Linked DNA regions of Homo sapiens: region 1 is linked to region 2. The links come from fine-mapping of genetic effects on gene expression. A gene starts in region 2. The other region holds a variant in brackets. All regions are shown on one strand. Distances are between the middles of the regions.

Region 1 (15,674 bases), 42 kb after region 2:
AGAAAGGATGCATAGGGCAAGGCATGAGGCAGGGGGTTGTGTGTGGTGCTTTCACGCCCTCAACGGGCACAGCACCCTCCCAGCACCTTGATGTATTCGCTAACCTAGAAGCTTTCTGAATCCCTTCATTTAGGGTTTATATGGAGATACCATTATATGGGCAGGATGGATTAAACCATTGGCCATTGGTGTCAGAACTCAACCTCCAGCCCCTCCCCTCCCTGGAGGTCTGGGAGTGCAGCTGAAAGTTCCAACCTTTTAATCATGCTTTGATCTTTCTGAAGACCAGTCCCATCCAGTCATCTCATTAACATACAAAAGACACTCTGATCATTCTGGAGATTCCGGGCATTTTATTTTTATTTTCATTTGAGACAGGGTCTTGCTCTGTCACCTAGGCTGGAGTGCAGTGGCGCAATGATGGCTCACTGCAGCCTTGACCTCCAGGTTCAAGCAATCCTCCCACCTCAGCCTCCAGAATAGCTGGGACTACAGGCATGCACCACCATGCCTTGCTAATTTTTTTCTATTTTTTGTAGAGATGGGGTTGCCCAGGCTGATCTCAAGCTTGTGAGCTCAAGCTATCCCTCCACCTCGACCTCTGTAAGTGTTCAGGGGTTTTGGAAGGTCTTTGCCAGCAACGGGGACGAGGATCCAATATGTATTTTCTATTCGCACCTTGGCTCTGCCACCTACTTACAATGTGATGTCAGCACATGCCTGGACCTTTCAGGCATGAAAGATCCCTTTACTGTCATATATTATGAGGATAATAACAGTAACTCTCCCATAGGGTTGCTGTGAAGATTAAAGGGGAAAATAAAGGAAAGCACTTGGCCAGGCGCAGTGGCTCACGCCTGTAATCCCAGCAGTTTGGGAGGCCGAGGAGGCTGGATCACTTGAGGTCAGGAGTTCAAGACCAGCCTAGCCAACATGGTGAAACCCCGTCTCTACTAACAATACAAAAAAAAAAAATAGCTGGGCGTGGTGGTGCATGCCTGTAGTCCCAGCTACTCAGCAGGCTGAGGTAGGAGAATCGCTTGAGCCTGCACCATCATCGAAGGGCCCTTTGAGAACTGAATGACATAATGTGATAAGAAGCAAGGTGCTCAGCCCCAAGTGTGGTACAGAAGTGATTGGTCAATGTTTCCGCTGTGGTTATTTGTTTATTTAGTCAGCATGTTAGGGGGTTGCCCATATGTCGGCTCTGGCTTGGATCTTGGGGATAAAGTGGTAAGTGAAGGGCTCGCAGTCTAGGCTGAAGGCCACAGTTAGAAACCAGAATCCTGAGTGGTTCCCTCCGCTGCAGGGACTCTGTCATGGCTCTGTGCCCAATGCAGCACCTTTGCCTGGCACAGGGTGGAGTTTCTGCTGGTAGAATAAACAGCCACGTGTTCACTGAAAGAGGTAAATCTCAGGCTCACAGGAAAGCACGTGGCAGGGATACCTGCCCTGCTGTGGGTGGGCTGCGCATGGGATGGGGGTTGGTGGATGGTCTGGAATGTTCTGTTTACCTGGCACATAGTTTTACCGTGTGGGCAATGGTGCAACATAAGATTGACGGAAGCGGAAGCTGGGGAATGAAAAGCCTCAGGCCAGGCCATGGATCTTAGCGCTTATCCTGAGGGGGATGGGAGCCGTTACAAGACAAAAAATAGGGGAGGCCCTGGTCAGATTTGAATTTGAGGTTGCTGTTTCTGGAGCAGAGTACGAGGTGGACCTAGAGCAGGGATTCTCAGCTTTGGCACTCGTCACACCTTGGGCTGGACCATTCTGTGTTGTAGATGCCGTCCTGTGGGCAGCACCCCTGGCCCCACCCATTAGATGCTAGTAACTCCCTCTCCCCGACTTGTCACCACCCAAAATATCTCCAGACATTGCCACATGCCCCCTGCAGGGCACAATCACCCCCTTGAGAACCACTGATTTGAGAATGTTTGAGAACAGGGCAAGGTGACCTTAGATGTGGTGGGGGAGGGATCCAGGAGTGATTTTGGACAGGCATGGGGGGCTTGGAGGATTTTTTGGAGTTGGAAACGACACGAGGGCAGAGGGTGAGGGAGGTCTCTAGAGCCTCACTCAGCTTTCGGCGTTGAGGTGCTTGCTGGTTAGGGGTGCTGGACAGTGAGACAGGAGGAGCAGGTGAGGATGGGGCAGGGTGGTGCTGATGAGCTAAGTTTGGGGTGCAGGGTGTTGAGGATGAGCACCCCTGAGGAGGCTTCCAGTGGACTTAACTAAAGATCCCTGAGTGATCTCATCTGATGCCGTGGCTTGAAACACCTGTGTTATCAGTATTTCCGGGGCACTTGTGAAACATTCTGATTCCCAGGCCCCTCCCCTGAAGAATCTGATCAAGTAGGCTCTGGGAGGCCCCAGGAATCTGTATTTACAAGCACCCTCAGTGGCTCTGTTGAGGGCAGCTTTGGAAACACTGAACTTAGTTTGCCGCCTGCTGGAGTGGCTGGCTCACGTCTCACTCCTACCCTGGACTGTTGATTTTGCCCCAAATTGCTCCTCCGCCGGTGTTCCCCGTATCCATCAGTGACACCCGCATTTATCCCCAAACCCAGGAGCCATAGCCTACACTCATCAGCAAATCAGGCCAGCCCCATCAACCCCTTCAAACCCTTCTACTCCTACAACCAGGTCCAGGCCACCTTCACTTCTCACCTGCAGTGTTAGGACGCCCCTCATGGGTCTCCCTGCTTCATTCCTTTGCATTGCATTTCTCAACCCAGCAGCCAGGGGAATACAGTAAAATAAATGTCAGTTCATGTCTTACTCCTGCATCTAACCTTCTAATGGCTTCCTGTCTCATTCAACATAAAATCTAAATGAGACTCAGCCCCTGTATCTCCCTCCAACTTTATTTCCCTGGTCAGTGGCCTCCTGGACTCTGCTTCGGCCACATCAACTTTGCTGGGTATCTCAGGCACACCTGGAGTGGCCCTACCTCAGGGCCTTTGCACTACCATGTCTCTCCTTGGAATGCTGTCCCCCCAGATACCTTCATGGCTCCCTCTTTTCTTCACTCAGGTTACCATCTCAGAGAGGCCTTCCTTGACTTTTTTTTTTTTTTCTTTTGAGACAAGGTCTCACTCTGTCACCCAGGCTGGAGTACAGTGGCGTGATCTCAGCTCCCTGCAACCCCTGCCTCCCAGGTTAAAGTGATTCTCGTGCCTCAGCCTCCTGAGTATCTGGGACTACAGGCATGTACCACCACACCCAGCTACTTTTTGTATCTTTGGTATAAAGATACAAAGATACAAAGATACTTTTTGTATCTTTAGTAGAGGCAGCGTTTCACCATGTTGACCAGGCTGGTCTTGAACTCCTGACCTCAAGTGATCCACCGGCCTCGGCCTCCCAAAGTGCTGGGATTATGGGCGTGAGCCACTGCACCCAGCCCCTTGACTTTCCTTTTAAAGAGCAGCCCTATCACTTTCTATCCCCGATGCCAGCTTTGTTTTTCTTCCTAGCACTTAACTGCTATCAGACATTACATATTAATTTCCTTATTATGTTTCTTCCACTTTAATGTGAACTCCAAAAGGAGGGGGATTTTTTTCTGTCTTGTTCCCTAGTGGTACATAATACATGTTCAATAAATATTTATGGAAGGGAAGGAAAAAAAGGAAAGGAGAAAGAGAAAAAAAGAAGGCGTAGGCAGGACTAGAACTCATAAAGAAAGTATATTTGGGTTACATAGTCAGTGTGATAGTAGAAATGACAGGCGTCAAGAAAATTGCCAAAAACACCATATAAAGTAAAGTAAAGGTGACTAGGAGTTGAATTCTGGGGAAAACTACATTTAAGGGCAGGAGAGAAGAAACAAGAACTGTGGAGACCAAGAAATAGAAGCTAGAAGGTAAGAGGAAGAGCAGGAGCGGACAGTGTCATGTGAACAAACGGAAACATTTCAAGAAAGATCAGCCTTCTCCACTAGAACTTCATGGGGTATATATATGGTATGTGTCCTCCTTTTCTTAGGAGGAAAGGAATGAGGCTCAGAGAGGTTCAGCGGCATGGCTGAGGTCACACACTCAGTGTATGTGGGAGAGCTGGGATTGCAATGGAGGTCTGTAACTCTTTGTCTTTTGTCTTAGTCCACCAGAGTGTTAGTTTTCTGGGGCCACTGTAATACACACTGGGTGCCTTAAAACAACAGGAATTTATTCCCTCACAACTCTGGAGGCTTATAGTCCAAATTCAGGGTGTTAGCCGAGTTGATTCCTTGCAGACCTCTACAGGAGAAACCACCCCAGGCCTCTCCTGTGGCTTCTGATGGCTGCCAGCAATCCTGGTACTCCTTGGCTGAGAGATGCATCCCTCCAGCCTCCACCTCTGTCCTCACCTGGCATTCTCCCCTGTGTGTCTTAGTCCATGTTTCTTCTCCCCATTTCATAAATCCAGTCCTATGGGATATAGGGCCCACCCTACTCCTGTACGACCTCATCTTGACTCAATTACATCTGCAAAACTCCTATTTCCAAATAAGGACTGTGGACCCCCATTGCTATAGTTTGGATGTGTTTCCTCTGCCAAACCTGATGTTGAAATGTGATCCCCAATGTTGGAGGTGGGACCTAATGGGAGGTATTGGGTCATGGGAGTGGATCCCTCATGACTGACTAGGTGCCATCCTCATGGTAGTAAGTGAGTTCTTGCTCTGTTAGTTCTGCACAAGAGCTGGTTGTTTAAAAGAGCCTCGTGCCTTCCCCATCTCTCTTGCTTCCTCTCGTGCCCTGTGATCTTTGCACACGACAGCTCCCTTTCCCCTTCTGACAAAAGTAGAAGCAGCCTGAGACCCTCACCAGAAGCAGAGGAGATGCTGGTGCCATGCTTCTTGTACAGCCTGCAGGACCACGAGCCACTTAATCCTCTTTTCTTTATAAATTACCCAGCCTCAGTTATTCTTCTATAGCAATGCAAAATGGACTAAGACAGTCATATTTACAGGTGTATTAGTCTGTTCTCACACTGCTATAAGAAATACCTGAGACTGGGTAATTTATAAAGAAGAGGTTTAATTGACTTACAGTTCTGTAGGCTGCATAGGAAGCATGGCTGGGGAGGCCTCAGGAAACTTACAATCACGGTGGAAGGCAAGGGGGGGAAAGAGATACCTCATATGGCCAGAGCAGGAGGAAGAGACAGAGAATGGGGAGGGGCCACACACTTTTAAACAACCAGATCTCCTGAGAACTCTATCATGAGAACAGCACCAAAGGGGGAAATCCACCTCCATGGTCCAATCACCTCCCACCAGGCCTCACCTCCAACATTGGGGGAAAGTTATGTAAGGTCACTACCCTCAATGAGCTCACAGCTTCGTGGAGCAGAAAGATAGGGAACAAGGTGGCCACTCCCTCAAAAATGAAAATGGGGCCAGGCACAGTGGCTCATACCTGTAATCCTTGGGGAGGCCAGGGCAACAGGATCACTCGAGGCCAGGAGTTCAAGGCTGCGAGCTGTGATCACACCACTGCACTCCAGCTTGGGTGACACAGTGAGACCCCGTCTGTAACAAAACAGGAAAAAAAAGAAAGAAAGAAAGAAAATGGAGCCTTACCTCATAACACAGACCAAAATCAAATCCTGATGGTCAGGAACTGATGAATGGCCAAACTTTAAGTTTTATAAGGAAATAAAGATCTTTATGAGCTTAGTATAGCAAAGCACCTCTTTAAAAAGTCAGAAAATAAAGTATGAACCAATGAAGGCAAAGAGGGATGCATCCTACCACATTAAAATGATGAACTTCTGCTTATCAGGAAACATAGTAAAAAGGATTAAAAGGCAAGCCACAGACTGGGAGGATACGTTTGCTATACACATATATTAGTTTTCTAGGGCTGTTGTAAGAAAATGCCGCAAACTGGTGGCTTGAAGAACATAAATTTACTCTCTGCAATTATTGGAGGTGTATTAGTCCTTCACACTGCTATAAAGAACCACCTGAGACTGGGCACTACTAAGAAAAGAGGTTCCGTTGACTCACCGTTCTGCATGGCTGTGGAGGCCCAGGAAACTTACAATCATGGTGGAAGGTGAAGGGGAAGCAAAGCACGGCTTACATGGCAGCAGGAGAGTGAGGGGGGAAGTGCCACACATTTTTAAACTGTCAGATCTCATGAGAACTCACTCACTGTTATGAGAACAGCATGGGGAAATCCACCCCACAATCCAATCACCTCCCACCAGGTCCCTCCCCTGACATGTGGGGATTAAAATTCCACATGAGATTTGGGTGGGGACAAAGAGCCAAATCATGTCAGGAAGGTGTTGGCAAAGCTATTATCTGTACCAGGCCTCTGTCACAGTGTCTGGTGGTTGGCTGGCAATATTTGGTGTCTATTGGCTTATAGATCTCTGCCTTCATCTTCACGTGGTATTCTCCCTGTGTGCATGTCTAAATGTCCTCTTTTCATCAGGACATCAGTCATTGGATTAAGGCCTACCCTACTCCAGTATAACCTTATCTTATTTAATCACTTCTACAAGGACCTTCTTTTTTTTTTTTTTTTTTTTTTTTTTGAGACAGAGTCTCGCGCTGTCACCCAGGCTGGAGTGCAGTGGTACGATCTTGGCTCACTGCAATCTCTGCCTTTCGGGTTCAAGGGAGCTGGGATTACAGACACCCACCACCACACCTGCCTAATTTTTTGTATTTTTAGTAGAGATGGAGTTTCACCATGTTGGTCAGGCTGGTCTCGAACTTCTGACCTCAAGTGATCTGCCTGCCTCAGCCTCTTAAAGTGATGGGATTACAGGCGCGAGCCACTGCACCCTGCCAGGACATTATTTCTAAATAAGGTCACATTCAGAGATCCTGGGGGTTGGAAATTAAATATGAATTTTGGGGAGGGAAATAATTCAACCCATAAAAACATGTAATTGCTGAATAATAGTATCCATAATACTTAAAGGCCCTTCTAGAAATTAATAAGAGAAAGACAAATACACAATGATCAAAAAGAAATGAGCAGGGTTTTCATAGATGAGAAAGCATAAGTAGCTGATAACACAACAAGGTGCTCACCTCTTTAGCAGTCAGGGAAACCCAGATTAAACCCACAAGATACCCATCAGATGAGACTAATGAAAAGCCTGACAATAACAGACCAATATAATCCAGTGTGAAATGCAGCTTGTCAGCCTCACTGGGGGCTTATGGAGGAAGGGCATTGCACTCACATAGAAAGTCAACATTTCGGCTGGGCGCGGTGGCTCACGCCTGTAATCCCAGCACTTTGGGAGACCGAGGTGGGCGGATCACAAGGTCAGGAGATCGAGACCATCCTGGCTAACATGGTGAAACCCTGTCTTTACTAAAAAATACAAAAAAAAAAAAATTAGCCGGGCGTGGTGGTGGGCGCCTGTAGTCCCAGCTACTCGGGAGGCTGAGGTAGGAGAATGGCGTGAACCCGGGAGGCGGAACTTGCAGTGAGCTGAGATCGTGCCACTGCACTCCAGCCTGGGAGACAGAGCAAGACTCTGTCTCAAAACAAAACAAAACAAAACAAAAACAACAACAACAACAACAAAAAACCCTAAGTATCTAGCAATAGGAAAATGGTTAATATAAGTTACAGTATTTCAGCCTAATGGAATGTTGTATGTGAACATTTATAATGACACTTATAATGTCTAGATAGTCACATGGAAAATGTGTGTGTAATTCTTTTAGTTTTATTATATTTTATTATTTTATTTTTATTAGTACAAATTTATGAGGTACACATGAAATTTTGTTACATATGTAATATATAGTGATAAAGTCATAGTATTTAGGGCTTCTATCATTCTGGTACAATACATTTTTGTTAAATATAGTAACACTACTCTACTATCAAACATTTATTATTATTATTTTTTAATTGAGACGGAGTCTTGCTTGAGGCAGGAGTCCTGAACTCCCGGCTTCAAGTGATCCTGCCACCTTGGCCTCCCGAAGTGCTTGGATTACAAGCGTGAGTCACCGTGCCCAGCCCCAAACATTGAATTTTTTCCTTCTCACTAACTGTATGTTTGTACCCTTTAACCCACTTCTCTTTATCCTCTCCCCTCTGATCTAAGGGTATTTTTTTTTAAAAGGGTATTTTTTTTTAAAGGGTATTTTTTTTTTTTAAATACCCTTTT[T/A]TTTTCTTAAAGGGTATTTCAGAATGTGACTGTATTGTCAATGCAGCTATGCAAATACAGGGTTGAGGTATTGACAAAGACTGGGAAAAAAAGTGAAGAGAAGAAAGAAGAAGAAAGAAAAGGAAGTGAAAGCATTTGATGAAATGTGTAAAGCACTGGCATTGCGGTTGGAGTTTGCTTTTTAAAAAATCCATTTCTATTTTAATGTTGTTTGTGCAGCAGATTAAGAGACAATAGACTTTATCCAACCGGTGAGAGCAAAGGCATAAGGGGGCGCAGAGCAGCTGTGTTTGGGCTTCACTAAAATTTGTGTGCGCACATTTGAAACCCTTTGCTAGGTGAGAGAGAGCGAAAGGACCATAGAGAAGGAGTTCAAAGCAAACCTGTCAGGAGGAGAGCTGGGCTCTTGCTATCTCCAGAAAATGTCTTTTGTCCCAGATGATTTTCTTTGATTTCCTTTTTATTGATTAGAAATTAACTGTGTTGAAAGGCTGCCGGGAGAGAGAATTTTTGTCTGGGTAGAGAGGAGAGAGCTGAGCCACATTTGCCCAAGCCGGCTGCTGGATTCATCTGAGTAATTTACAGATTGTCTATTTTGGTTCTCCCTAGCCCACCCCACGTGGTTCGACCAAATTAAGCGCATCGGGCTCTTACAAGAAAGGAAATGAGGCCTGTTTATTTGTGACATCGCTTCCACAAGGGACGAGGTAGAAGTGGGCCTGTCACCCAGTTCCTTCTCCTGTCTTGGCTTCGATTCTGTGGGGGTTGGATAGGACAGGGGGTGGAACATCGTGCTGACAACCCCTCTCGGCCCGTGGTGTGGCAGCAGCTCAGCCTCTGTGTTGGGGGCTGCACTGCTTGATCTTGGATTTGTTTCTGGTGCTGTGAATATAGTAGTGGACACATGGGCACTTTCTTTGCCTTTATGGAGAAAAAGGTAAGGACCAAGTACCGTGAAGGAAATGACAAGGTGGTGTGATGGGAAATGATGGAGGCAGAGGGGTGTTTTCAACTGAGTGTTAATGGGAAGCTTAGATGAGGAGGTGACTGTTGAGTTGAGATTCCCAGGGAATAGCAAGTTCAAGCCTTGGGGCAGGTACGATCTTGTATTTTTTTTTTTTTTGAGACAGAGTCTCGCTCTGTCGCCGAGGCTGGAGTGCAGTGGCGGGATCTCAGCTCACTGCAAGCTCCGCTCCACCTCCCGGGTTCACGGCATTCCCCTGCCTCAGCCTCCCAAGTAGCTGGGACTACAGGCGCCCGCCACCAAGCCCGGCTAATATTTTTGTATTTTTAGTAGAGACTCGGTTTCACTGTGTTAGCCAGGATGGTCTCGATCTCCTGACCTCGTGATCCGCCCGCCTCAGCCTCCCAAAATGCTGGGATTACAGGTGTGAGCCACCGTGCCTGGCCAATGATCTTGTATTTTTAAAGAATAGAAAGAAGGCAGAGGCGGTTGGTGAGTGAAGTCTCAGAGGTAGGCAGGAATCAAATCATTTGGATCAAATCATTTCGATCCCGTAGATAAATTATTTTAGAGACCATTAGTTCTCAACTGGGTGATTTTTGCCCTCAGTGGACATTTGACGATGTCTGGAGACATTCTGAGACTTTACCACTGGGGAGAGGGGTGATGCCGCTGGCATCCAGTGTGTAGAGGCCAGAGATGCTGCTAAACTTCCTGTAGCGCACAGGACAGCTCCCACAACACAGAATGCTCCAGCCCAAAGTGGCAATAGTGCTGAGGTTGACAAACCCTGTTGTTGACCAGGCTAAGCACTTTGAATTTTATTTTGAGAGATGGAGGGTTTTAAACAGGGAAGTGAGGCCGGGTATGGTGGCTCACACATGTCATCCCAGCACTTTGGGAGGCCAAGGTGGGCAGATCACTTGAGGTCAGGAGTTCGAGACCAGCCTGGCCAGCATGGTAAAACCCTATCTCTACTAAAAATACAAAAATTAGCTGGGCATGGGGGCTCATGCCTGTAATCTCAGCTACTCGGGAGGCTGAGGCACAAGAATCACTTGAACCCAGGAGGCAGAGGCGACAGTGAGCCAAGATTGTGCCAGGGCACTCCAACTTGAGCCACAGAGCGAGATTCCTGTCACAATAAATAAATAAATAAGAAATAAACGGGGAAGTGAGGTAATGGCATGGTTCCGTTTTCTTTTAGAAAACCAGAATATTGGTCTAAATTATTTCAGCTCTGACATTCCAATCTTATCTCACTAAATTTGGATAAGGAAGACTTCACAGAGTTGGAGATCCTACCAGAACAAGCAATCCATTTTCCTTGGGAGGGCTGAACCCACTTCCTAGGAGGATTTTTGTATTTGGTGCTTGGATGTCCACTTTGCAGTGAAAAAGAATGGCTTAAGGAGAAAGAAGAAGGAAGGAAATCTTAGCTGGATCTTTCTGGGCTCTGGATTGTGGCTGGTGCTTTGGCCTCTTCAGATCCAGAGGGGACTGAAGACAGACTCAGTGGAGGCAGTGAATAGACTTTTCTTTCTTCTTAAGAGACAGGGTCTTGCTGTGCCTCCCAGGCTAGAGTGCAGGGGTTCAATCATAGCTTACTAAAGCCTTGTTAGAAACAAATGTGCAGTGTCACAAAGAAAATGAGCACTAAAACAAAGGATTTCCCAGTAAGGCAAAATTTACTTCTGTAGGAAGGTGTTTCTCACAGGTCTAGTCATCATGAGAGTGCACTGAACAAAGGAGGGAAGGGGTTTTTATCCCTAACGTAGCTTGTCCCTGCTACTGTGTCCTGCCTCCACAGGTTGGAGTTGGACCACACAATCTAAGCTGAACCTGGTTGGCTAACTTGGAAAGTGCGGGAATGCGGTTACACTGGCAGGAAGGACAGTTTTGGTGGGAAGAGCTGCTGTGATGGGAGGGGTAATTTACAGAGTGGGTAGTAGATGTAGGCTCTGTAGATAAGGACCAGTGGAAGAGTTGTTTACTGAAACCAAGACAGGGAGGTACAGAGAGCAAGGAAGTTTGGCCTTAAAAGTAGAGAACAAAGAACAAGGAAACTAAACAAGCTAAACCTTTGAAGAGGAGCTTCTCGCATCAGATAGCCTCAAACTCTTGGCTTCAAGCATTCCTCCTGTCTCAGCCTCCTGAGTATCTGGGACCACAGATGCATGCCACCATGCTAAGCTAATTAAAAAATAAAAATAAAGAAAGTTTAGAAATGGAAGGTGGGAAGGTTTTGCTTTGTTGCCCAGGCTGGCCTCAAACTCCTGGCCTCAACCCATCTTCCCACCTCAGCCTCCCGAGTAGTTGGGATTAGAGGCTCAAGCCACTGCACCTGACGAACTGTTCTTATACCAAAAGTTCCAAGTCTTCGGTTCCTGTTAAAATTTTGTTCAGGGTACAGTTATGTATTTAAAAAATCTGAATCAGCCCAAGATTTATAGGCTTAGTTCAGGATTTCTCACCTTTGGCACTAGTGATATTTTGGGCCAGACCATTCCTTGTTGAGGGGGGCTGTCTTGTACCTTGTAGGATGTTTGGCAGCATCCCTGGTCTCTCTCTACCCACTAGATGCCAGTAGCAGACCCTACCCTATTCCCCAGTTATGACAACTAAAACATCTCCAGATGTTGCCAAATGTCCCTGGAGGTGGCAGCAGAGAGGACAAAATTACCCCAGGTTGATGCAAGTTGGATGTCCTAGCACCTCATGGATGTCTGTAAAGATCACCATTAATTTCATGATCTTCCTAAGTGGGGCAAGTTGAGGAGCTGCTGGACTAGATGGTCCTGCTTTCTGTTCCTACATTCTAAGCTCCTTATCAGCTGGCTCCTGGTCAGCTTTTTTTGTTTTGTTTTAAATTAGAGACCATGTGTTGCTCTGTTGCCCAGGCTGGAGTGCAGTGGCACCACCAACATTCACTGCAGCTCCGAACTCCTGGGCTCAATTGATCTTCCCACTTTGACCTCCTAAAGCTCTTGGATTATAGGCATGAGCCACCATGCTTGGCCCTCGTCAGCTTTTAGATGTAGCATCTGATACTTCTAGGGAAGAAGGACTGAGAAGATGCTGGCTCCAGGAACACCCCAGGGACATTTTTGTCCCTAGATTGTTAGAGCCGACATTTATGATGCCCAAGTGAACGATGTTATTCATACGTACAACATATTCTGGGGCAGAGACCCTGAGTGTGATGGCAACTCTCCTTTTCCTCCAGGGCTGGGTTAGGATAAGGCTCTGAGGCCCCCAAGCCCTGAAAATTATGGCGCTGCTCACCATATGTCATTCAAGATAATAATAATTCTCTTTTTTTTTTTTTGAGACAGAGTCTTGCTCTGTTGCCCAGGCTGGTGTGTAGTGGTGCAATCTCAGCTCACTGAAACTTCCGCCTTCTGGGTCAAGGGAGTCTCCCACCTCAGCCTCCTGAGCAACTGGGATTGCAGGCGCCCACCCCACACACAGCTACTTTTTGTATTTCTAGTAGAGACGGGGTTTCACCATGTTGGCCAGACTGATCTCGAACTCCCGACCTCAAGTGATCTGCCTGCCTCGGCCTCCCAAAGTGCTGGGATTACAGGCATGAGCCACCGTGCCCGGACAAAAAGGACTGCTGCAATAATTCTCAAATGTAAATCTCAGCAATGTTCTGATTTCTCAACGGGAACTGCAGTGCTATTTCTGAAATACCAAATTCTTGCCAAAAATTATATTTCTCTTTTTTTAAAATTTATTTGATGTAGAAGTGGGGAGGGCATCATCCACTCCTAAGTGGCCAAGAGCACACACCTGTTCTGAGGGAGAAACCAGTATTGTCTTTAACACTTAACAACAACAACAAACCAGGAATGTAAATGGGTGAAGGTGATGTTGTTTCTAAGGAGAATCCTCACTAATTTATTTCAAACATCCAAATTATTAACCATCTTTGGCTGCTTTATTTTATTTACTTATTTTTAAGATAGGGTCTTTCTCAGTTGCCAAGGATCTATCATAGTTCACTGCAGCCTCAAACCTCTGGGCTCATGCAATCCTCCCACATTTGCCTCTTACATAGTTGGGACCACAGGTACTCACCACCACAGCTGGCTAATTTTTTAATTTTTTTGTAGCAAAGTGGGGCATCTCACCATGTTTACCAGGCTGGTCTTGAACTCCTGGCCTCAAGCAATCCTCCAGCCTTGGCCTCCCAAAGTACTGGGATTACAGACATGAGCTACTGCACCCAGCCAACTTTATTATTAATAATAAGTTACTTGGCCCTTGTATTAGTCTGTTCTCATGCTGCTGATAAAGACATACCTGAGACTAGGCAATTTACAAAAGAAGGAGTTTTAATTAGACTTACAATTCCACGTGGCTGGGGAAGCCTTGCAATCATGGCAGAAGGCAAGGAGAGCAAGTCACGTCTTACATGGATGGCAGCAGGCAAACAGAGAGAACTTGTGCAGGGAAACTCCTCTTTTTAAGACCATCAGATCTCGTGAGACTTATTCACTATCACGGGAACAACATGGGAAAGACTTGCCTCCATGATTCAATTACCTCCCACCAGGCCCCTCCCACTATATGTGGGAATTCAAGATGAGATTTGAGCGGGAACACATCCAAACCATATCAACTTTTATATAATAATATTGATAAATTCAGGATCAGAACACAACAAAGAGTATTGGGGCTTTAGTGAAGGCTTCCCTCATTCTGTTCCATCTGTATGGGGCACCCTTCCCTGCAATATTTGCTGGACTAAATCCTACTTATCAAGGCTTAACTCAAATGCCTCCTCCTCCATGAAGACTTCCTTGACCATGCCCCTCCCAAGAATAGATTGTGCTTCAGTCTGTCTTGGGTTTCATTTATATTGCTGATTAATACTTGAGCCCTACAATTATTTCTTTTTTTTTTTTTTTATTATACTTTAAGTTCTGGGGTACCTGTGCAGAACGTGCAGGTTTGTTACATAGGTATACACATGCCATGGTGGTTTGCTGCACCCATCAACCTGTCATCTACATGAGGTATTTCTCCTCATGCTATCCCTCCCTTAGCCCCCCAACCCCCAACAGATCCTGGTATGTGATATTCCCCTCCCTGTGTCCATGTGTTCTCATTGTTCAGCTCTCACTTATGAGTGAGAACATGCGGTGTTTGGTTTTCTGTTCCTGTGTTAGTTTGCTGAGGATGATGGTTTCCAGCTTCATCCATGTCCCTGCAAAGACATGAACTCATCCTTTTTTATGGCTGCATAGTATTCCATGGTGTATATATGCTACATTTTCTTTATCCTGTCTATCATTGTTGGACATTGGGGTTGGTTCCAAGTCCTTGCTATTGTGAATATTGCCACAATAAACATACATGTGCATGTGTCTTTATAGTAGAATGATTTATAATCCTTGGATATATACCCAGTAATGGGATTGCTGGGTCAAATGGTATTTCTGGCTCTAGATCCTTGATGGATCTCCACACAGTCTTCCACAATGGTTGAACTAATTTACACTCCTGCCAACAGTGTAAAAGCTTTCCTATTTCTTCACATCCTCTCCAGCATCTGCTGTTTCCTGACTTTTTAATGATCGCCATTTTAACTGGTGTAAGATGATATCTCATTGTGGTTTTGATTTGCATTTCTCTAATAACCAGTGATGATGAGCTTTTTTCCATATGTTTGCAATTATTTCTTAATTGAGGTGAAATTCACATAGTATAAATGTAATCATTTTAAATATACAATTCAGTGGCATTTAGTAAATTCTCAGTGGTGTGCAACCATCACCTCTATCTAATTCCAGTTCTGGAATTATGGAATTCCATAATTGGAATGTTCCATATGGAACATTCCCATCACCCAAAGGAGACCCTGTATCCATTAAACAGTCACTCCATATTTCCCCCACCTCCCAGATCCTAGCAATCACTCATCTACTTTCTATCTCTATGGATTTACCTATTCTGGATATTTTATCAATGGAACTGTACAATATGTGATTTTTTGTGTCTGGCTTCTTTCACTTTTTTGAGGTTTGTCTACATTGTATCAATGCTTCATTGTTTTTATGAATGAATAACCTACCATTGCATAGATAGGTGATGTTTTGTTTATCTATCTGTTGATGGACATTTAGGCTGCTTCCACTTTTGTCTATTGTGAATAGTGCTGCTATGAACATCTGCGTACAAGTTTTCATGTGGACATGTTTCCTATTCTCTTAGGTATACACCTAGGAATGGAACTGCTGGGTCATACACCAACCTGTTTACCAAAGCAGCTGCACCAGTTTTCATTACCACCAGCAGTATACAGCGTTCTTGTTTACCACATCCTGGCCAACACTGCTTATGATTTTGTGTGTGTGTGTTTATTATAGCCATCCTAGTGGGTGTGCAGCCCCTGGAATTTTGATTTGTTTTTATATCTTCCTTGCTCTCCACCAATAGATACTGAGTTGCTTGATGTCTGGGATTGCTGCTTAATCACCAGAAACCTTGTGTAAGGGTTAACCATGGGCTGAGTTTGAACCTTGTTCTTTTTGTTTATGATATATGATCTGGAGCAAGT
Region 2 (15,674 bases):
GGCTGTCCTCCTGTCTGATGTGTTGTTCTGTCTTTTCAACCTTTCTTTCTTGTTTTTTTTTTTTTTTTTGACAGGGTCTCACTCTGTTACCCAAGCTGGAGTGCAGTGGCACAATCTTGGCTCACTGCAGCCTCAACCTCCCAGGCTCAAGTAATCCTCCCACCTCAGCCTCCCAAGTTGCTGGGAAAACAGGTGCACACCACCACACCCGGCTAATTTCGTATTTTTTGTAGAGACAGAATTTCATTATGTTGCCCAGGCTGGTCTTGAACTTCTGGGCTCAAGTGATCTATCTGCCTCCGCCTTCCAAAGTGCTGGGATTACAGGTGTGAGCCACAAAGAAAACAAGAAAATTGTTCAGAGAAAATAAAGTACCAGTATAATGGCTAGTAATAATATAACCTGTCTGTGTGATGTGTTTATATTTTCAAAATAACAAATAGTACTAGCTAGCATTTATTGAGTAAATAAATGGTAGCAGGCGCTGTGCTAAGGGATAAATCTAGATTGGCCCACTCAATCTTTACTTCCACTAAACGGTGGCTGTTATTATCCTGTTCACTGAGGAGGAAGCTGAGCCACACAGAGAAGCATGTCCAAGGTCACACAGCTAGTAAGTGGCAGGCTGACTCCGAAGTCCAGGATTTTAACTTCCATGTTATCCCTTCTTCCTCCCTAACATGATCTTCTCTTCCAACTATAAAATAAAAAAAAGAGGGGGCCAGGTATATCAGCTCATGCCTGTAATCCCAACACTTTGGGAGACCGAGGCAGGAGAATCGCTTGAGCCCAGGAGTTCGAGACCAGCCTGGGCAACATAGCAAGGCCTCATCTCTGCAAAAAAAACTGAAAATTAGCCAGGCATGGTGGCGTGTGCTTGTAGTCTGAACTACTTGAGAGACTGATATGGGAGGATCACTTGAGCCCTGGAGATCAAGGCTATAGTGAGTTGTGACTGTACCACTGCACTCCAGCCTGGGTGACAGAGTGAGACCCTGTCTTGAAAAGAAAAGAAAATGAAAAGAAATAAAAATAAACTTATGCTTTTAAGCAGAAGAAACAGAGAACTACTACTCGTGAACTACATGTCAGTGTTTCAAGTATATTTTCCTCTTTTGCTTTATCTTTCACCAGCCTGGTAGGGGAGTATACCCATTCTGCAGATGAGGAAAACTGAGGCTCACAGAGGTGAAGTGACTTACTTGAGGTCACACAGCTATCACGTAAGCAAGGCTGGACTAGAAGTTGGATTTTTTTTTTTTTTTTTTGAGACGGAGTCTTGCTCTGTCACCAGGCTAGAGTGCAGTGGAGCGATCTGGGCTCACTGCAATCTCCGCCTCCCGGGTTCAAGTGATTTCCCTGCCTCAGCCTCCTGAGTAGCTGGGACTACAGGTGTGCACCACCATACCCAGCTAATTTTCTGTATTTTGGTAGAGACGGGGTTTCACCATGTTGGCCAGGATGGTCTTGATCTCCTAACCTCGTGATCTGCCCACCTCGGCCTCCCAAAGTGCTGGGATTACAGGCATGCGCCACGGCGCCTGGCCCAAGTCAGATCTCTTGCTATCAAACCACACAGCCCGTGGGGAGGATGGAGATGAAAGGAGTCGGACTTCCATGTGGGGTTACTTGGTTATGTCTGCTCTTGGGATCATAGTTAACAAGAGGCTGCCATTCCTATTTCAGACTAAGCTATTTAATTAGCCTGGGGCCTTCTTACTTTCCTGGCATTCAAAAACACTGCCCAGGGTTACAGGTATAGCTAAAATAAGATCTGAATAGCATGTTTGGGAAGCTGTATAATTAAAACTGACTTAGGAGACAAGTGCCATCAGCCTGTATTGCAGAAATAGAAAGTCACCTAACCAGAATCTGTGTTGTTCGTATGGATGCGAGGGGCTGCTTTTGCAATTCTGGTGCTTTTTAATTATAATAGGTATTTTCAGGACCGTAGTTTGCTTTGGCACCTCTAACTACCTATCTAAGGATCCTGAAGAGAAGACCATTATTATATGCTTGTCTCTGCCATCCAGGGCTGGGTGGGTGGGTGTTCAAGGGAAGAAGGTGAAAGGCCTGGTTCCTTTTAGAAGCTGGAGATAAAAATGAGCCCCTGGATACCTTCAGGAAGTGACGGAGGCCTCATTCCCTGCTCATCAGCTCTGAATGTCATTCTGTGTTAAGAGGGGTTGAATTCCAGAACCATCTAAACTTCCCATTGCACATCTCTGCCTGAGTGTTCCAATGTGATCTCATCGTGGCCATGTTTTTTGTTTTTGTCTCCCAGCAGCTGTTCTTAGAGAACTAACTCCTCCCCTCTCTGCAGCCCTTGTGGGATCACAGCTCATGGTGCTCACACATCCCTGTCCACCTGGTCACTTGGTCCAGGCCAACTGAAGCAGAGTACAGGGTCCTCTGGACAACAATAGGCATGAGACCTAAGTAGGGCCCGAAGTTTTCCATTAGATTTGGTATAAATATCTCTTTTCTTGCCGGGCACAGTGGTTCATGCCTGTAATCCCAGTGCTTTGGGAGGTTAAGGTGGGAGGATTGCTTGAGGCCAGGAGTTTGAGACCAGCCTCAGCAACATAGCGAGACTCCATGACTACAAAATAAAAATTTTAAATTAGCCAGGTGTGGTGGCAGCACCTATAATCCCAGCTACCCAGGAGGCTGAGGCGGGAGGATTGCCTGAGCCCAGGAGTTGGAGGCGGCAGTGAGCCATGATTGCATCACTGCACTCTAGCCTGGGCAACAGAGTGAGACTCTGCCTCAAAAAAAAAAAAAAAAAAGGAGTCTCTGGGCAGATCACCTGAGGTCAGGAGTTCGAGACCAGCCTGCCCAACGTGGTGAATCCTCGTCTGTACTGAAAATACAAAAATTAGCCAGGCATGGTGGCACAAGCCTGTAATCCCAGCTACTTGGGGGGTGAAGGCAGGAGAATTGCTTGAATCTGGGAGGTGGAGGTTGCAGTGAGCTGAGGTCATGCCACTGCACTCCAGCCTGGGCAACAGAGCAAGACTCTATCTCAAAAAAAAAAAAAAGTCTTTTCTTTTTGGAGCATAAACTGTAAGAATATAAACTTAAGATCACTAGTGGCCATTTCCTGCCATGTAAAGCAAACCTACTCTAGGAAGAAAATATAAAAACCCTGATTTTCAGAGAGATGCTGTAAAGAGGTGGGATATATATATAGAGAGTGAGCTCTTATGACTTCAGTTGCATCCCTATTTCCAGCCATGCCCACAGGATTTGCTCTTGGACTTTCCAGTTAATGAGCCCATAAATACTTTTCTGCCCAAGTTGGATTGAATTGGACTTCTTCCAGGAACCCTAGATAATACATATCTGAGACTCATATCCAGACACAAACTCCTCCTCCTCCTGCAGCACACCTGCATCTCTCTAGCCTTCCTTGCCTTCCATGACCTCATCACCTCTCACTCTGGTACTGCCATTGGCTCACTGCCATTATCTTGGTTCAGACTCGCATTACTTCTCACCTAGATTGTTGCAACCATCTCCTCACTGGCCTCCCTGCCTCCAGGCTTGTCTGCTCCATGTCCAAAGACAGCCAGGTGGACAGACAGACAGACATGCACACAGCCCTGCCAAAATCTTTCTGATCACAATCCTCTCTGCTTTTCCATGGGGTAACTTAGGAGGCCGCCTGACATGTGGCATCTGCTACCTGTGGAGCCACACCTGGCACCCACCTCTCCCTAGTTCCCATTCTCACCTCTAAGCTAATGCAGAAGCTACCTTCAGGGCTTTCTTACTACTTTCTGTGTCATGAAACCCTGGGCAGTCCATCAAAGCCTATAGAGCCCTCTTGGAATAATGTTTTTAGAATCGTAGAATAGAATACATAGATTGATAATGAAATTATAATGAACACTGATATACAGTTATCAAAATATTTAAACAAATTTAAATATGGTCATGTCTTTGCTTCTTTGTTAACACATTAAATAGACAATTTAGAGGTGGGCCTAATAACTATTTGTAATTTTCAAGCAGTAAAGAACATAAATGAAATTTCAAGTCATTTGCAACAACTGCAAGTGTAATGAGATAGACTACACATGATCTTTGTTGGTGACAAAGTCCTGAGTAAGTGCTAAGCTTGTTTTGGTTGGTTGCCTGCAGTCATAATGGAAGGAAACACTAAATTTCAGAAGGAGGTTGGTGACAATGGTGATGCAACTTTTTTTCTTTCTAAGTTCATGGACCTTCCAAATAAGCCCCACTCCCCATCTTTGGTTCTTTGGGACTCAGCTTAATGTCAGCCCCTCTGGGAAACCTTCTGTGATCCTTCATCACACGAGGTTGGGGCCCCTCACCTGTAACCCCACAGTCCCCTGAGCCTCCCTTTATCACACCACAGGTCACATATAATTCCATGCATTTGTCTACCTCCCTGATTGGGGCCTTCTTCATTGAGATCTGTAAAGGTGCCAGCTTTGCAGGCACAGCCTTGATCTGAGTCCAAGTTACATTGAAAAGCTGGACTTCATGTCCCCGTGAAAGGCAGGAGAGGCTTGCAAAGCAGTGGGATCCTGGAACTCATTGACACTCCCCTGATGAAGGACTTAAACTGATTTCTCGTCCATTCTTTCATCTGACGATGGTGCAGCCATGATGAGTTGAGACTTTATTGCTAACCAGACCTGCATTTTTGTCCTGTCCCTGTCTCTTGTCACCTGTTTACCTTGGGCAACTCACTTTGCTTCTCGTCTCAGGATTTCAGTTTCCTCACCCGTAAACTGGGGACCATGACAGTACCCACCTTGTAAGGCTCCAGTAGGGATGAAACAAAAACAAATGTGAAGGGCTTAACACTCAATCATAATAACCAGTTGTCTGAGAGTTGAAAGTGTCCATGTTAGCTGTTGTTGCAACCCATTTGCTCATTCAACAAGCATTTATCAAACACCTATTTTGCCAGGTGCTTTGCATACATTTAAAGCATTTCATAATACCAGAGGCAGGTTCTATTATCCGCATTTTAAATAACCTCTTCTTTTGCTCGAGAGGTGCTTAGTATTCTTGGACAGTTTCAGGTCATAAGGGATTAAGGTACCAAAAAATTCTGGGGACGGGGTCATCCCCCTCCTCCAAGATCAGGCATTATTAGGCAACATGGTGCAGGGGCTAGGGAAAGGATTCAGGTTTAGGTTTGAATCCCAGCTCCTGGAAGCCACACACACCCTGCAGGGCAGACACATTTGACGGCAATAATTGAACTTAGCTTACCCTGCGAACGACCCTATGGTCTAAGAAGAATGTGTATTCACAGTTCAGAGCTAAGGAATCCGGGAGTGGCCAACCTGGAGATTCACTCCTTATCTATGAAGGATGTCTGGGTCCCCTGCCTATCCCTTGGAATGCAGGCTGTACAGGCAATTGAGGCCCTTGGTTTTGGGTTAAAGAGCCAAAACCCTTGGTTAAAGGGCCAAAAGGAAGTTGCTTAGATAGAAGGTGCTAAGCGAAAATGCTATATAAACTGCATGCTTTTTATATAAACATGTTTTTTATATAAACAATCGAGGCCCTTTGTTTTGGGTTAAAGGGCCAAAAGGAAGTTGCTAGGTGGAGGGTGCTAAGTGAAAATGCTACATAAACTGCATGCTTTTATATAAACAGTAGAGGTTCTCCTGTCCAGCCAGCTGCCACTGGATTGTCCCTGTATGTAAGTTCCCTCAATAAACCCTGTGTCTCGTTCACTGTCTCTAGGTCTCTTTTTTGGCCTCCTGGACATGGTACTATTCCTAAAGGAGTTAACAGTGGCCTGGCATGACACGCCTTGGGCAAATGACTTCATCTCTTTTTTTTTTTTTCGAGATGGGGTCTTACTCTGTCATGTAGGCTAGAGTGCAGTGGTGTGATCTCAGCTCACTATAGCCTCAATCTCCTGGGCTCAAGCGATTCTCCAGCCTCAGTCTCCCAAGTAGCTGGGACTACAGGTGTGAGCCACCAATGCCGGGCTAATTTTTGTATTTTGTAAAGAAACTTTTTGTAGGCTGGTCTTGAACTCCTGGCCTCAAGTGATCCACCCACTTTGGCCTCCCAAAGTGCTGGGATTACAGGCATGAGCCACCATGCCTGGCCAACTTCACCTCTTAATGCCTCTTTTTTTCTCACCTAAAGAGTGGGATAGTACTTGTGCCTACCTCATGGTAATCAGAGAATTAAAAGATCAAAATTTGTGTAAAGGGCTGAAAACAGTGCCTGGTACACAGACCTCAAAAAGGGTTAACTTTTTTTTTTTGAGATGGTATCTCATTCTGTCACCCAGGCTGGAGTGCAGTGGCACGATCTCAGCTCACTGCAACCTCCGCCTCCCAGGTTCAAGTGATTCTCCTAGCCTCAGCCTCCTGAGTAGTTGGGATTACAGGCACCTGCCACCATGCCCGGCTATTTTTTGTATTTTTAGTAGAGACGGAGTTTCGCCATGTTGGCCAGGCTGATCTCGAACTCCTGACCTCAGGTGAAAAAGGGTTAACTATTTTTACTTATGGGAACACCTAGCAAATTCCTCGAACTCCCTCAAGTGCCCCCAAGGAGCACCCGTTCCAATAGGCATCCTCCTCTGTGAGGCTCACTCCCCACCTGGCATGCCTTGCCATCAGTGCTGGAGAAAGATTGTGGATAAATACCACAAAGTGGTTAGGAGTGGCCACTTTGGGTTCACTGCTGGACTTGTGGGTTCAAATGTCAGTGCCCTGGGCTACCAGCTGTCAGGCCTTCATAGAGGCTTTACCTGTCTGGGCTGCAGTCCCTCATAAATTGGAGATAATCATAGCACCTCCCTCAGGAAGCAGAGTGAATAAGGCAACAAAAACAATTACTGAGTGCCTACTCTGGCTGGACAGGTGCTACCTAATAGGAGTGATCAAGGTACTGCAGGTTGAAATGAAATAACGCTTGTGAAGTGTTGAGGCGTGTATGCCTGCAGAATCATAAGCACTCAATATGCGTTACGTGCTATATGCTACAAACTAAATATATCATACTAAAAAATGTATAGGTCTGCTAGATTTTTAGACAAAAAATATATGCATCTGAATATCCATCTTTTGTTACTCCCATATTCATTTTCTCATTTATTCCCACAAATCAGCCCTGGAGGATAGGCAGGGTGGAGATTTTCTCCTGTTTTTACTGAGGAAAAAGAGGCACTGGGAGGTTAAAATTAAAATGCTGATAAGCTGGTGTCCGGCAACAGGAGATGACTGGGCATATTAAAAAGAAAACCGGCCCGGCGCAGTGGCTCACGCCCCTAATCCCAGCACTTTGGGAGGCCGAGGCAGGCAGATCACTTGAGGCCAGGAGTTCGAGACCAGCCTGGCCCACATGGTGAAACCCTTTCTCTACCAAAAATACAAAAATTAGTGGGCGTGGTGGCATGTGCCTGTAGTCCCAGCTACTCGGGAGGCTGAGACACGAGAATCCCTTGAACCTGGGAGGCGGAGGTTTCAGTGAGCCAAGATTACCCCAGTGCACTCCAGCCTGGGTGACAGAGTGACACCCTGTGTCAAAAATAAAATAAAATAAAATAAAATAAAATAAAATAAAATAAAATAAAATAAAATAAAATAAAATAAGAAATCCAGCGGAGGGCAATGTTCCACCTCGAATCTCTGAGTGGAGAGCCAGAGGCCTTGGGCTGGGAGGTTTGATGGAGGCCTCTGGGTCCAGGGCGCCCCAGCCACGAGGACAGGCAGGAGGGCGGCGGTGGACACGCCCCGGGGCGCACGCTCGCTGGCGGCCGCCTGCCCGTGGGCAGAGGAGCGCACGAGGCCGGGCACGACGCTGGGTGGCGCTGCCGGGCCGCCCCGCGCTAGACCTGTTGCGTCCAGGGCGCAACTCCGGCAGGTTTAGGGTAAAGGGGCGCTCCGCTCTCTCCGCGCGCCCCCTGCAGCCCTGGACGCAGCACCTCCGTTTGGGACGCCCTACGCCCACCTTAACTTGAGGCTCCCATCCACGCAGCCTCTGCAAGCCTCACCGCAACCGTGCTAGGCGCGTCGGGTGGGGCGGGAATAAAGTTTTTCCAACCCAGTTTGGGGAGAGGGCTGGATGGGAAGGACCCTCCCTGCTGCAGACTTCATGGCAGGCTGCACTGTGTCCCCTCGGCTCCACGGCTGCCCCGGGGGCGCTGCTTTCGGTAGGTGCCAGCCCCCGTGCCAGCAGGATGGGCTGACCTGTGTACCGCCCCCTCCCACCCCCTTCCCCATTCCCATCCCCTCCCCCGCCTCCTGCGCGCTCCGGCCCCGGCGTCTCCGGCCCCGCCTGCGCTGGGGTCGCTGCAGTCCCCGCAGCTGCCCCGGGCTGCTTGCCCAGGCGCCCCGGCCTTATTCCAGCCTGGGGAGCGCCTCGGTGGGGAGCACGGGACAGCGAGGGAGGCCGAGGCGGGGGCCCTGGGCGCCCGATATCTCCGAACCGGGGAGGCGGCCCCGATTCCGAGAGCCGGAACGCAGGGAAAGGCAAGGACGGGGCGGCCGGCGGAGGGGCGGGCGCCGCTCATCAGCCACGCCAGTCACGTCTGGGGCCACCGGCTGCCTTTTTCTTCCTTTCCCCCTTTGCTTTCTTCCCCCTCCGCTGTTGGCGAGGGCAAAGTGGCCGTGGCGGCGCCATGCCCGGGCCGGAGTGAGTGCGCGCGGGCGAAAATGGCGTACATCCAGGTAGGGCTGAGGCTGGGGGCAAGGTCCGGGGTGCGGGTAGGGGGTGCCGCGCCCCCTCCGGCTGGGAGCGCGCGGAAGGGAGGGCCCACGGCTAGGCTCCCACAAACTTGCTTCGAGAAAAAGGGTGCCCGTGCGCGGGCAACCTGTGCAGCAACAGGGGTGCGCCCCGGGAGGAGAGACTGGGGACCCCCAAACCCCGGGATGGAGGGTCCTATGTGTACTCTGCAACGCGCGCCCTTGCCTCTTGGGGAGGGAATGGGGGGTGGGGCGGACTTTTCTTCTCCCCTGCCCCCTCCCTCTCCTTGGCACCCCACCCCAGGGGAGGGGCCGTGGGGAGGGCGGCCCGGGGCGCGCCAGCCACCCGGCCCGCCAGCTGCCGTTGCCGTGGTGACGGCTCCGGCTAATTGGCCGGCGGAGCGAGCCTGAGGCAGCTGTTCCGACCAGGAGGGACAAGGACGTCGTCTCTCCTGGGCACTGGGTGCTGAGGGGTGGGGGACACCCAGAGGCCAGAGGCGCGCTGGTGAAGAGAAGGGAGCCTGTTACTTTACTCCGCTGCATTGGGGTCTGGGAGATGTGGACCCTCTTCACCTTGAAGAAACGTCCCCCAAGAATCCTTGGGCTGAAATAATTCTGAAATAATTTCTAAGCAGCCTTTTTTGGGGGGAGGGGGCGGAGGGGTGGGCCGGGCTTCTTGGTGAAAAGACCTTTCTCCTCTGCAAGAAGGGAAGTGACCGCAGGTCAGCGCCAAGGTCAAGCAGGCAGACCCGCAGTGAGACCCGTTGAGCTGCTTGCTTCTGGCGCTGGCGCCTCTGAGCTGGGCAGAGAAGCTTACAGACTCCCACGTCCAGGGTGCATCTTGGCTCACATCTTGTCCCCTCAGCCACAGCTGGGGGTGCTGCTGGTCCTCCCATTCCCCTCTGGGTCACATATCCCCTCATCGTGTCCTCAGACGCTTCAGCCTGCCGGGAACTCTGTGCTGTGTCACCTGGCGGAGCCTCTTCCATTCATCTCCTGCCTTAGATTCCCTGAATTGGCTTCCCTTTCGTGGAATCGCCAGTTTCTCTTCAAGTTCAATGAAGGTCACATTACTGTCCACCCACTGTGTGCTGAATGTTGTCCAGGGGCTATTGAGTAGTCGCCCAACAAACACTTGGGCGACCGCCTACTAAGTGCTGGCACTGGGGATACAGTGATGAAAACAGCACAGTTCCTGCCCCTCTGGGTGCGCAATTTAGTGAGAAATGAACATGATTACCGGCTCCTGGAGTTCTTAATGGCCGCCTTCAGCACAGAGAAATTAAGTGACTTGCCCAAGGCCACATAGCTGCTTAGGGGTCAAGGTGGGATCTCAAGAGGGGACTGTGGTAGATATGTTAAGCATCTCATATGGCGATGACCCAGTGATGTTGGTTTTCCTTCTAGAACAAGGTGTTAAACTTTGTTGTCCTGTAAAGTGCCAGATACTATTTTTTTTCTCTTGGAGGCTCACATGGTCTCTGTCACAACTATTCCACTCTGACTATAGCACCAAAACTGCTATGGACAGTAGTAAATGAGTGGGCGTGGCTGTGTTCCAATAAAACTTTATTTGCAGGCACCAAAATTTGAATTTTGTATACTTTGCACGAGTCAAGAGGCATTCATCTTTTTTTTTTTTCAACCTTTTAAAAACTCACAAATTATTCTTAGCTCAAGGGCTGTAGCAAAACAGGCTGCGGGGCTGGTTTTGATCTGCGAGCCTTAGTTTGCCAACCTCTGTTTAGAATGCATGGGTTGTCTTTCTTCCTCTTTCTTTCTGGTGTGAATTGGTTCTCTTCCATCGGTGTCAAACACGTGAGCCCAGGAGACCCAATGCCAGAAAGACTCAGCATGCCTGGGAATGTCAGGGCACCCTCTTTCATCTTCTTTGCTTTCTCTCTGCTCCTTGACACTCATCTTGCACCTGGGCTTTGAGAAAGTTGGGGAGGCTGTTTTTCAGCAGGGCCATGAGGTGACCTTGTCTCTGTTCACTTTGGTTTCATAAATGGCCTCTTTTGACCACCACATGTCTAGGAAATGCTTCCCTGTATTCAGAAAATGGTCATAGATTATTATGAAAAAGTATCACTTTATCCTAACATTCTAAAGCACTTTTTCATGCAAGCCCTATGAGGGTATAATATTTTGCTGTTTTGTGCCCTGCTGTACCTGCCGGGACAATACCCAGTGCCTACTGGGTTCCACTAGGTCTTGACAATCACCTAATTCTCATCACAGAAAGGGTGCATTTTATTTTTCAGCTGGACCGCACGCAAGTATTTGCATAGTCAGTGTCCTGTCCCACCTCAACAGCACGCCTTTGAGGTATAGAGTAGCCTTTCCACTAAAGAAGAGGTAACCGAGGCTCAGAGAGGCCCCCTGTCTTGCCCAAGTCACATGATCAGTCGATGGTGAGACTAGGACTCTAGTACTTCCTGGCTCAGCTTGTTGCGTGGCCCCTCAGCACCTTTGGGTCTTGTTCTGTGTATGGTTTGAGTTTTGGCTTTAGAGAGTTTGTGATAAGTGCCTTTGACTATTTCCCAAGCTGTTGCTATTCCCTTACCACTTCGAGGATTTCAATTTTTTCACAAGCCACGTACCACCTATACTATGATGATGATGATGATGATGATGATGATGATGATGATTATGATTATTATTTTAGACAGGGTCTCACTCTGTCGCCCAGGCTGGAGTGCAGTGGTGCGATCTCGGCTCACTGCAACCTCTGCTTCCCAGGTTCAAGTGATTCTCCTGCCTCAGCCTCCCCAGCAGCTGGGATTACAGGCGCCTGCCACCACGCCTGGCTAATTTTTTGTATTTTTAGAAAAGAGGGGGTTTCACCATGTTGGCCAGGCTGGTCTCAAACTCCTGACCTCAGGTGATCCACCCGCCTTGGCCTCCCAAAGTACTGTGATTATAGGCATCAGCCACCACGCCCAGCCCTACCTATGCTATTATTAACTTAATTTTTTTTCTATAAATGGGCTCATTTTTATTTTTACTTTAAAAAAATCATATGAAAAGGAAACATTATGTCACTAATATCATAGGAAACCAAGATCATGTGACATCGCAGAAGGCAACTAGAAGAATAAACCCAATGGGAATAATGCCACATTACTGAATTCTAGGTGGACGTGGCTGTCTCCAAGCCTCTGGACAAGATCTACTTTCTTTGTTTAAAAGAAAGGGGATGGGGGAGGGTGGAAATTGGTAAGTGGTAAAAGATGTTAACATGTAGTGGTACCAAATTGAGACTTTCTCCTCCTTAAAGGAGAATCGGAAAAAAGATAATAACTTTCTCCCTCTTGATTCAAAGTTCTGAGTTTGAGTCCCACCTCAGTTCACCTCTGGGACATGCCCGAGGTTGGGATGCAGTACTTCTAACCTATCTAGCCTACTTGGCCCATTTGGAAAACCACCTTAAAGAGAAGGAGGGAGTCTGTGCCTTGAGAACCCAGGAGACGAAGATGGGGAGGCGGGGTGGGGCCACAACAGGAAGGGAGGACCTCCTTCCTCAAGAGGACCAGATTAGGGCTTCCTTTTTAGTTCCCTCTATTTGTGGGTGGTGATAGGAAACACCCCACCATCACCATTGGAGCAGAATTGGAAGGTAGGGCCTCCGGGAGGGCGGGGGAGCCAAGTAACATCCACTGTGTGCCTGCCTGCATGTTAGCTAATCATGTCCTTTTGGGTTGGCTACATGGCTATTTCTGTATAGGAAGGTTTGCTCTTCTCCTGAAGTGTGGCTGCATTGGATAGCATGACTATCTATCCGCCCGCTCTGATTCATAACAGCATACGGTGCAAATCAAATCGAAATGCTAAAGTTTCCCATTTATTTGGTGTTGGTTAACCAGGAGGCTACCAGCAGCCCTGAAAATAGCAACACCTTGTTAGGATGTTAGGAAGTCAGCTCCCTTCCCAGGATGGTAAGTGGAAATATGCAGGGCTTTTTTTTTTTTTTGTAAAATTTTTTTGAGTTGCTGGAATATTGCTAAACTGGTCTTGTCTCTCTTTCTTTAACCCCTTCGTTCCCTTACGCCCTTGGCTTCATCGTGGATCTTAAAAGGGCAGTTGGAACCATTAAACGAGGTGGGTTCATTTGATGATTTGTTTGGTCTGGTTTCTAATCAAGAAATGCCTGACTTTCATTTTGGAGTCTTATGTGGGGCTGTGGGGATATTGAATATTCAACAATAACCTGGTGTTAATAACGGCACAGTTTCCATTCCTTTCTACCGAAAGGAGATCCCGGTTTTGAAAAGACACCAGTTGACAAGACAAGTTTCCCTCTCCACCCCTACTTATTCCGTTTGATTATCTCTGTCTGTTTCATGTCACCGAGATTTTTTAAAAATATTTTTTCCCCTGCTTTCAAGAAGACACAGTAATATTCATTGTGTTTCGAACATATCGTATAGCCCTTATGATGTTGTATAAACCACCCACATGTCAAGAAAGACGTTCACATAAACTACAAAAGAAAATACCTGCAAATGTTTTGCTTGCTACTAACGGCTCCAGCGAGTTGATGTTTGCTATCTTTGTGCCTGCAGTTGGTAAATAGAAATGGAAAACATTTTGTTCTAAGTGCTGAGCAGCAGAGCCAGAACTCCTGAATGTCTATTTCTCATCCGAGATCGGCTGCTTGTAATTTTGGGTGTTGTTTCTCCTCTTCCTCTTCCCCACCCTGCCCACCTCCCCTCTCCCCCATCCCCCCGCCCACCTCCCCCAATGGCCTCAGGGTTTTCTTTCTAGAATCTCTGGTCTGCTGCTGTGCAGATGGACCTGCCGGCACTGCTGTCAGAAGTGCTACGAGTCCAGCTGTTGCCAGTCAAGTGAGGATGAAGTTGAAATTCTGGGACCTTTCCCTGCTCAGACCCCTCCCTGGCTGTAAGTAAAACTGCTCTGAACTTCTCTGAAATCAATTTCAAGACTTTTCCTTTTTAATGAGAAGGCGGGTTGGGGGTCTGGGCCACGGGAGGGAGGATTTGGGGGCATGAAAGAGAAGCAGGCTGAGTTTCCAGGGACAACTTTGCTGCAGACTGGGGATATGTTCTGTACCCCTCATTTTGTTCGGCAAGCTGGCGAGACCAGCTGGTGGTGTGGTTTTAGTTCACCTAGTGGCACATCGGGCCTTCTGAGATACGAACCGTGTAATGCTAAGCGTGTGGGCGTTTTTAGTCACGTGGAGCGTGGTTCCGAGCAGAAAAGGAGATCTGTGAGCCGAGCCTCTATATTCTTCAGGGGCTGACCGCATTCTGAGGGTTTCCATCCAAGTCAGCGTGACAAGATTCCCTAGCACTTAGCCCAGGGCCTGCACATAGTAAAAGCTCGATAAATATCCATTGCATGGATGGGTAGACGGAATGAACAAACAAGTGCCTTTTTGCTGCTCCGAACAAGAACTTCAGAAACAGGGAAGCAGAAAAGCACCTCCAGGCTCCATCCTGTCCTCCAACGCTGTTTATGTTCTCTCTGGCATCTTTCGTTTTATTTCTAATTTGCTCTCCTCCCGCGCCTGCATACAACATCTCCATCTGCCAGTCGCTCAGATATTTTGGGAACGCAGTTTTGAAGCTTCTCAGCCACGTGCCTGGTCCACCTCTCCGTGACTGAGAGAGGGACGTGGTCAGAGAGCCTGGGTACAGTCAAGAAGGTCGGGGCTGGGAAGGATCAAGAAGTCATCAAGTGAGCTTGTCATGCTTCGGAGGGGCAGGCCCAGAGAGGGAGACAGACAGCGGCCAGGACCCACAGCTGGAGCCTGGCAGAGTGGAAGGAGGCAGCGCTGTTTCAGCTCAGTCCTTGGCCTGAGATTCCAAAAGTCTCTGGTGTCCCATCTTTCCCTCCAAGCTGGGGGCTCATGCCTCAGGCCTCTCATTTTCTCTTCTTAGAAGCAAGTATCAAATATTTCCATAGCAAAATGGTTCTGTATCCAGGCTCTGTGGTCTCAACTACTATTTCGAGTTCTGTGACCTTGGGCAAGTGGTTTGATCTCTGTGTGCCTTGATTTCCCATCTGTGAAATGGGATGATAAAAAGAATAGTATTTCTCTCAGAGTTGTCGAAGGGAGTCAATGAATTTGGAATGTGGAAAAGTAGTTAGGAATGCTTGATACTTTGTTGGTGATCATACATGTAAGTAACTCTGGCTGGGCGCAGTGGCTCATGCCTGTAATCCCAGCATTTTGGGAGGCTGAGGGCAGGCGGATCACTTGAGCTCAGGATTTCGAGACCAGCCTGGGCCACATAGTGAGACCCCCCCCATGCCCCATCTCGACAAAACATCAAAAAATTAGCCGGATGTGGTGATGTGTGCCTGTGGCCCCAGCTACTCTGGAGGCTGAGGTGGGAGGATCGCTTGAGCCTAGGAGGTTGAGGCTACAGTGAGCTGTGATTGCGCCACTGCACTCCAGCCTGGGAAAGAATGAGACCCTGTCTCAAAAATAAATACATAAATAAATAAATGAGATATGCATATAATATGCTTAGCACAGAGCAAAAGTTTTATAAGCATTTATTTCTGTCAGTATTAGGTTTCAATAGAGATTAATTAAACTGATACAAACACAATGTTAAAGAACTCTTCCATTATTCATTATTCATAAGTTGTGGCCTGAATCCTACAGGTGTGTGTAGAGTTGAGATTTTTGGTGAAAGCAACTCATTAATCAAGAGATAATTCACAGCCGGGTGCCGTGGCTCTCATCTGTAATCCCAGTGCTTTGGGAGACTGAGGTGGGAGGACTGCTTGAGGTCAGGAGTTTAAGACCAGCCTGGGCAACACGATGAGACCCCTATCTCTACAAAAATTTAAAAAATTAGCTGGGCACGTTGGTGCCTAGAGTTCCAGTTCTTCGGGAGGCTGAGTTGGAAGGATCGTTTGAGCCTGGAAAGTCAGGGCTGCAGTGAGCTATAATCACGCCACTGCAGTCCAGCTTGCGCAACAGAGCAAGACTTCAAAAAAAAA

What was found. PIP is the estimated chance that this variant, and not a neighbour inherited with it, causes the effect.
Region 1: its variant is fine-mapped to the expression of SYT17 in whole blood (TOPMed, PIP 0.98).

Annotation. Positions count from the first base shown.
Region 1 is chr16:19,202,374-19,218,047 of GRCh38, forward strand. The region is part of intron 5 of SYT17 (synaptotagmin 17); the gene reads left to right. Among named protein-coding and RNA genes, the nearest start is that of SYT17, 42 kb to the left of the region's middle. The variant T/A (reference allele first, on the strand shown) is at 8,143.
Region 2 is chr16:19,159,981-19,175,654 of GRCh38, forward strand. It overlaps SYT17 (synaptotagmin 17), which reads left to right and starts at 8,260. Exons shown (of 8, transcript NM_016524.4): 1 at 8,260-8,681; 2 at 12,780-12,797; 3 at 13,450-13,598. The coding sequence starts at 8,667. RefSeq lists a silencer at 7,656-7,905 and an enhancer at 8,097-8,844.